Linked DNA regions of Homo sapiens. The protein of the gene in region 2 interacts with the protein of the main gene of each other region in a pairwise test. Each region holds a gene or a part of one and is shown on either strand. Other genes may lie near its edges. The genes, in order: SMARCA5 and BAZ1B.

The links.
Region 1: the proteins of BAZ1B (region 2) and SMARCA5 interact in binary tests that used the Homo sapiens proteins (3 or more experiments, as listed by UniProt).

Annotation. Positions count from the first base shown.
Region 1 is NC_000004.12:143,523,653-143,527,575, reverse strand, and holds part of SMARCA5 (SWI/SNF-related matrix-associated actin-dependent regulator of chromatin subfamily A member 5), read right to left. Parts: intron 3,210-3,923; coding exon 3,109-3,209; intron 2,126-3,108; coding exon 2,025-2,125; intron 1,296-2,024; coding exon 1,116-1,295; intron 1-1,115. UniProt on the Homo sapiens protein: ATPase that possesses intrinsic ATP-dependent nucleosome-remodeling activity.
Region 2 is NC_000007.14:73,473,626-73,477,548, reverse strand, and holds part of BAZ1B (tyrosine-protein kinase BAZ1B), read left to right. Parts: coding exon 1-681; intron 682-3,923. UniProt on the Homo sapiens protein: Atypical tyrosine-protein kinase that plays a central role in chromatin remodeling and acts as a transcription regulator. Involved in DNA damage response by phosphorylating 'Tyr-142' of histone H2AX (H2AXY142ph).

The DNA.
Region 1 (3,923 bases), on a different chromosome or scaffold from region 2:
GAGGCAGGTTTAGACAAAAAAGAGGGAGGTTTTAACATAAAGAAAGGAAGAGGGTGGAAAGATAGTTAGCAGTAGTAGGCATCTGCATTCCTTTCAGGTTTATAAATGTATTAACACATTCCTAATAGTATTATTTTAAAGGTAAGGAAACTGAAGCAAAGACTGGTTAAGTAATTACCACTCTTTGGGCTCCCAAACAAACAAACAAAAATTGATAACTTAAAATATCCAACATAACTAGAAAGGGAGAGAAAAATATAGACTTATCACTCACAGGTAAATGAAGAGGAAATAAAAAACAAGTACACAGCTATTCAGTAGAGTCTGAATAAATTTCCAAATCTGAGCTTTATATACTAATGTCATTATTTCCATCTCTTCTTCCCACAAGGATGTTGTCAACTGATCGAAATTTTAACTTATTTTGTTAAATATCATAATAAATCACCAAATTACTATATATGACTCAACCCGTCTTTAAAAACTCTAATTCTGTGACTATTACCACTACACACATTCATCTAAAAATGTGGCTCCTTAAATTTCCAACCAACTCACATTTCAAAATATCTTTTAAAAACAAGAAAATAACTTCTAATGAGAGCACAACCAATGATTTTATACAACCACTCCCAAAAGGGAGAGAAACAAACTACAGTCTTACAGCTTTCTACCATTTCTAATGTCTTCTTCCCAGTATGATTTTTTTTTTTTAAGATGGTCTTGCTTTGTTGCCCAGGCTGGAGTGCAGTGGCGCCATCTCGGCTCACTGCAACCTCCACCTCCCAGATTCCAGCGATTCTCCTGCCTCAGCCTACCAAGTAGCTGGGACTACAGGCCATGCGTGCCACCACACCCAGCTAATTTTTTGAGTTTTTAGTAGAAACGGGGTTTCACTGTGTTAGCCAGGATGGTCTCGATCTCCTGACCTCATGATCCACCCGCCTCGGCCTCCCAAAGTGCTGTTTTTTATCCACCAAGACAATGCTACATTTGTAAATACTAATATTTGCGAAGATCCCGTCTCATTTATCCTTCTTCCAGCTATACCCATACCCAAGCCTGAATTCAAATTATTTTAGCCTCAAAAATGTAATGAAATACTAGAAACTTACTCTTTGTTCTTTATCTCCTATCAAACAAACAGATCTAAGTGTTGGTACCCATCTCTTGAATTCACTCATCCAGTTGTGTAATGTAGACTTAGGAACCAAAACCATATGAGGCCCAGGAATGTTTCTATAATGTTTCATGTACCCAAGAAGAGAAATTGTTTGAAGAGTCTTTCCTAGGCCCTGAAAGATTTCAAAATAACCATGAAGCAGTGAAAAATGAAAATATTATTTCACAATTATACCTCCCAACATATAGAAATGTTCAAAAGAAATGCTACATATTTATAACAGTTAATAAATGGCAAAAACTTAACATATATCAAAGTTTGTAAGTGTTATGTCATATAATTTTCACAAGTCTCTAAAGGAGGTATTATTATCACCCGCATAAGGCCCCGTTTAAGTGACATTCCCAAAGTCATCTAGCAGAGCTAGCATTGAAACACATTTCTTTTGACTTCATACTTTCTCCAACCAATTAAACGTTTTAGCATTATAGCAATAAGGAAACTTTTTTAAACATTCATTACATAACTAGTAGTTAACAAAAGATAAATGTTTTCTAAGAATTGTACAAGCTACCACCTGGAAAAAACATTTATCAATTATAAACAATTAATGACCTCACTTTTGTTTTACAAAACTGGAAGCAAATAAATCATTGTACTATAAAAGTCATCCAAAAACATGTTTCTCAAATGTATTCTTTTTAAATTTATCATATTTTCAGCGATGGAAATTTCTCACAATTAAAATACAGATCACACTTATGCAACTAAGGCAAGCTGCTTATACTAGTTTCTGAGAGGATCCATTTGCTAACAGTTGTAGACTGTAAGAAACTTTTATCAACGTATAAGATATTTTCAATACAAAACATACCCTTCAAAAAAAACTACCAACACATACCATTTCATCTGCAAGGATACCATTGATGCCATTCTCATACAAAGAAATGAGCCAGTTTAATCCTCGGACCTGATAATCTCTCAGTTTACCCCATTTTACATCTAAGAACAAAAGAAAAGCACAATAGGCATTTTAAGACAAGAAATACAAGGCAATCTCTTCATCTAAGCCTACACATATCTACTGACTTTATTTTCATTACTAACGGATTCTTGAATAGGAACTCTGCAAGTTCCAAAATACTAGAGGTAGCTGCCATGGTCTGAAGTGGAAAAGCTGGACATGGAAGATAATCAAGTGCGGGAAACATGACTGCGGGCATCAGAGTACCCACTCCAACAACTCAGTTCTTACGTTACCCATATACTGGTCTGAGAGACTCTTTGGCCTCTCGTCTTTTTAATGAAAAACCAAGTGTTCCTAACCAAGTATTTTCAGCTTTCATAAAGACCAGATACAGGTTATCTGGGGATTTTATTTTCTTTCTAGTAAAAAAAAAAAAAAAAGAAATAGGAAATTCCTAAGTTACTTGTCCAATATATCTTATACATTCCAATGCACTCTCTTTCAGGGTATACTACTTATTTTGCTCCCCAGAATAATTACCAAATATACATAACGGTCACCTGATTTTTCTTTTTTAATATGTACACAGTGTAGCCCTCCATCTCCTTTTGAAAAACACTTGAGGATAAAAAGCTAACCAATAAACAAATACATTTCACAAAAAATTAAATTAATATAAAAACATCAGAAGTAAGCAAATGTGTTCATGAAGTACCTTTTTTAAAATAAATTAGTTTTCTTATGTGGGACAAATATAAAGCAAAACGATCCTTAGATTTACATATACTTCAGGGCAATAACAAACACAATGACATTTTATATAACTTTGAAATACAGCACTACTATCCTGTAATATGCTCTCATCTCCATCAAAATCTGAAGTTTATTTCATAACCAATAAACATCTAAGACTACTAAAAATTTGCTTCACAAATAGTAGCCAACACAAATCCAAAACATTAACCAAAGGAGATCTCAAAGGGCAATTTTTTAAAAAAATCAAGTGTGTTTAACATACACGATGGAGAGTCTTCAAATCGAGTGCAAACATTGGTTGCTTTGGAGCTTTCTGTTAATAGCTCTTCATCCTCCTCTTGCTCTGTTCTACGGTGTCGGTAACTGTTAAGATGAAAATAAAATAACCTGATTTGAGTTTTGGCTTTAATTATCAGCTACTGTTTAAACATCATAGTCAAGTGGCTGACCAAGATTCCACAAAATTAAATTTTTAACAGGCATCAACCAGTGGACAGTAGAAAATATGAGTACATTTAAATCTGCAATGTTTTAAATAATTATTTAAAATATACATTAGTTATTAAAATACACCAGTACGATACATTAACCAGAACCCAATAAACTCAAATATGATAGTCAAATTTCAAGAACTATGTAGTCAGAAAATCTCATTATTTGAATTTTAAAGTGTACCTTTTTAAAAATCTTTTTGCCAAGGAAAAAAAAGTTCCAGAAACCACATGTTTAAAATTGTAACTTCGAGCAAAAGCTGCAGCATAAGGACTCAGAAATTTAAGCAGTGACCACGGATTCATCAAAAAAATTTTTAAATACACATCTAAATTCTACATCCTAAGAGAATCAGATATACTACCCCCTTAAAAACTGATTTTCTAAAGTTTTAATACTGCCAATTAATCTCTAAAGGGCTTGGTTCAGTAAAACTATTAATACTTACTCCCCAATTCTGACACTTTCAACAAATATTTTCATCTTATTTAGAAAAAGGCACGTTATGCCTCTGTTGAGACCGCTGAATCTAATTTGTAACTTCATTTCTACCAAAACCACATGCTTGCTAAAAGGATAAGCGGC
Region 2 (3,923 bases):
TGGAAGCCTTGAGTGCAGATAAGGGTGGCTTTTTATACCTTAACAGGGTGTTGGTCATCCTCTTACAGACCCTCCTACAAGATGAGATAGCAGAAGACTATGGTGAATTGGGAATGAAGCTGTCGGAAATCCCCTTGACTCTGCATTCTGTTTCAGAGCTGGTGCGGCTCTGCTTGCGCAGATCTGATGTTCAGGAGGAAAGCGAGGGCTCAGACACAGATGACAATAAAGATTCAGCTGCATTTGAGGATAATGAGGTACAAGATGAGTTCCTAGAAAAGCTGGAGACCTCTGAATTTTTTGAGCTGACGTCAGAGGAGAAGCTACAGATCTTGACAGCACTGTGCCACCGGATCCTCATGACATACTCAGTGCAAGACCACATGGAGACCAGACAGCAGATGTCTGCAGAGTTGTGGAAGGAACGGCTTGCTGTGTTGAAGGAAGAAAATGATAAGAAGAGAGCAGAGAAACAGAAACGGAAAGAAATGGAAGCCAAAAATAAAGAAAATGGAAAAGTTGAGAATGGGTTAGGCAAAACTGATAGGAAAAAAGAAATTGTGAAGTTTGAGCCCCAAGTAGATACAGAAGCTGAAGACATGATTAGTGCTGTGAAGAGCAGAAGGTTGCTTGCCATTCAAGCTAAGAAGGAACGGGAAATCCAGGAAAGAGAAATGAAAGGTAAAATTTCATGCTGAGAGAAAAGGGGAAGCTCTGTAGAAGATAGTAAAAGAAAGGAAATTACTGAGGTAATGGTAGGGTCTCTGTTTGTTTACTTATTTCTGTATGTAATAACCCAGCACCTATTGGTATGTATTTTATTTTTTATTAGTTCTGTTGATAATTTCATATTTCAGCTGGAGTGTTCAGCCTGGCATTCTGATTAGTTAATAAGTTAATGTGATGTTGGCATCTTTTCTGGGTTCAGTAAAGGACCAAATCTACAAATAGAAATAGTGGAAACAACATAGGACTTGGGAGTTGACTGACCTGGGTTCAGGTTCTAGCTCTGACTTAGCTGTACAGTGTTCCTTTGGGCAGATTACTTATCCGTGCCTCACTTTCCTCATATGCTTGATAAGATTGTTGTAAAATTGATTGACAAGGTATTTGAAGCCCCTAGCACGGTCACCAACTCAGATAGTAATCTGTCCTTTAAGATTTAAGAACTTAAAAATTTTGGGCTTTGATGGCTCCATCGAATCTGAACTTTTAAAAAGCAGCTTTATTAAGAAATAATCGACATACAGTATAATTAGTTCACTTATTGTGTATAATTTAGTGTTTTCAGTAGAGTCACAGATAATGTACAACCATTGCCAATTTTGTAACATTTTTATCATCTCAAAGAAACCTGCTACCCATGAACTGTCATTACCCCATTCGCCCATCCTCCCCAGCCCTGAGCAACCACTAGTCTACTTTGTCTCTATAGATTTGCTATTCTAGGCATTTTCTCTAAATGGAATTGTATAATAAATAGTCTGTTGTGACTTTCACTTAGCATAATGTTTTACATGCTACAACATGAATGAATCTTGAAAACATTATGCTAAGTGAAAGAAGCCAGTCACAAAATAGACCACCTCTATTTAGTTCTAAAACATTTTTTTTTTTTTTTTTTTGAGATGGAGTCTCGCTCTGTCACCCAGGCTAGAGTGCAATGGTTTGATCTTGGCTCACTGCAACCTCCGCCTTCTGGATTCAAGCGATTCTCCTGCCTCAGCCTCCCGAGTAGCTGGGATTACAGGCATGCGCCATCATGCCTGGCCAATTTTTGTGTTTTTGTAGAGATGGGGTTTCACCGTGTTGGCCAGGCTGGTTTCGAACTCCTGATCCACCCGCCTCAGTCTCCCAAAGTGCTGGGATTACAGGCGTGAGCCACTGTGCCCGGCCAGCCACCATGCCGGGCCAGCCACCATGCCTGGCCCCAAAACATTTTTAAAAGAAAACCCAAAAGTCACTCACTCTTCTCCCTTGTCCACATCCCCCAGCAACCACCAATCTGTTCTCTGCATCTATGGATTTACCTATTCTGGATATTTCATGTAAATGCAATCATATAATATGTAGCCTTTTTATGGCTGGCTTTTTTCACTTAGCATGTTCTCCAGGTTCATCCATGTTGTAGCATGTGTTAGTACTTCATTCCCTTTTATGGCTGGATAATATTCCATTGTTTGGATATACCACGTTTTGTTTCTCATTCATCACTTGATAAACATTTAGATTGTTTTCATCTTTTACCTATTATGAACAATGCTGCCATAAATATTCATGTATGAGTTTTTGAGTAGTCATATACTTAAATTTCTTTAGAGTAAATACCTCGGAATAAGATTGTTGGGTCATATGATTATGTTTAACCATCTGAGAAACTGCCAGACTGTTTTCCAAAGTGGCTGCACAATTTTACATGCCCACCAGCAGTGAATTAAAGGTTCTGACTTTTCTCCTTCCTCATCAATACTTGTTATTTTCTGACTTTTTGATGATAGTCATACTAGTGGGTGTGAAATGGTATCTCATTGTGGTTTTGATTTGCATTTCTTTGATGGCTAATGATGTTGAACCATCTTTTCATGTGTCTCCTGGCCACCTGTGTATCTTTGGCGAAGTATTCAGATCATTTGCCCATTATTAAATTGAGTTATCTGATTATTATTGAGTTGTAAGAGTTCTGTATATATTCTAGATACAATTCTCTGTCTGATACCTGGTCTACAAATATTTTCATCTATTTTGCGTGTTGTCCTTTTACTTTTTTTGGGGGAGACGGAGTTGCGCTCTTTTTTGTGCCCAGGCTAGTGCAGTGGCGTGATCTCAGCTCCCTGAAACCTCTGCCTCCTGGGTTCAAGTGATTCTCTTGCCTCAGCCTCCCGAGTAGCTGGGATTACAGGCGTGTGCCACCACACCTGGCTAATTTTATATTTTTAGTAGAGGTGGGTTTTCACCATGTTGACCAGGCAAGGTCTCGAACTCCTGACCTCAGGTGATCCGCACGCCTTGGCCTCCCAGAGTGCTGGGATTACAGCTGTGAGCCACTGCACCTGGCCTGTCCTTTCACTTTCTTAGTAGTATCATTTGAAGCACAAAAGTTTTTTAAATTTGATGAGGTTCATTTTATCTATTTATTCTTTTGTTACTTATAGATTTGGTGTTAGATTTAAGGATCTTTTGCCAAATCCAGGGTCATGAAGATTTACTCCTGTTTTCTTCCAAATGTCTTAATAGTTTTGCCTCTGAAATTTAGGTCTTTTATTTTCAGCTAATTTTTATAGTGTAAGGTAAAAGTCCAGCTTTATTTTTTTTTGCATGTGGCTCTCCAGTTGTCCTAGTGCCGTTTTTTGAAATGACAAACCTTTCCCCATTGAATGGCCTTGATACGCTTGTCAAAAATCATATGACTGTAGGATACGTTGGCTTATTTCTGGACTCTGAATTCTATTTCACTGATCTGTATGTCTGTCTTTATGTAAAAGCCACACTGTCTTGATAACTTTGCTTTGTAGTAAGTTTCGGAATAGGGAAGTGTTGATCTTCCAGCTTGTTCTTTTTCAACATTTTCTTTTTTATTTTATTTTGAGACAAGGTCTCATTCTGTCACCCAAGCTGGAGTGCAGCAGTGTGATCTCAGCTCACTGCAGCCTTGACCTCTTGGGCTCAAGTGGTCCTCCCACTTCGGCCTCCCGAGCAGCTGGGACTTACAGGCATGTGTCAGCACGCCTGGCTAATCTTTTTATTATTTGTGGAGGCTGGTATTGAACCCCTAAACTCAAGCAATCTTCCTGCTTCAGCCTCCTAAAGTGCTGGGATTACAGGCCTGAGCCACCAAACCCCGGCTTGAATAGTTCTTTCATTAGAAAATGTATATTCCTTTTAAAACAAATTTTAGTTTACACTACTTAAGGCCATTGAAATAT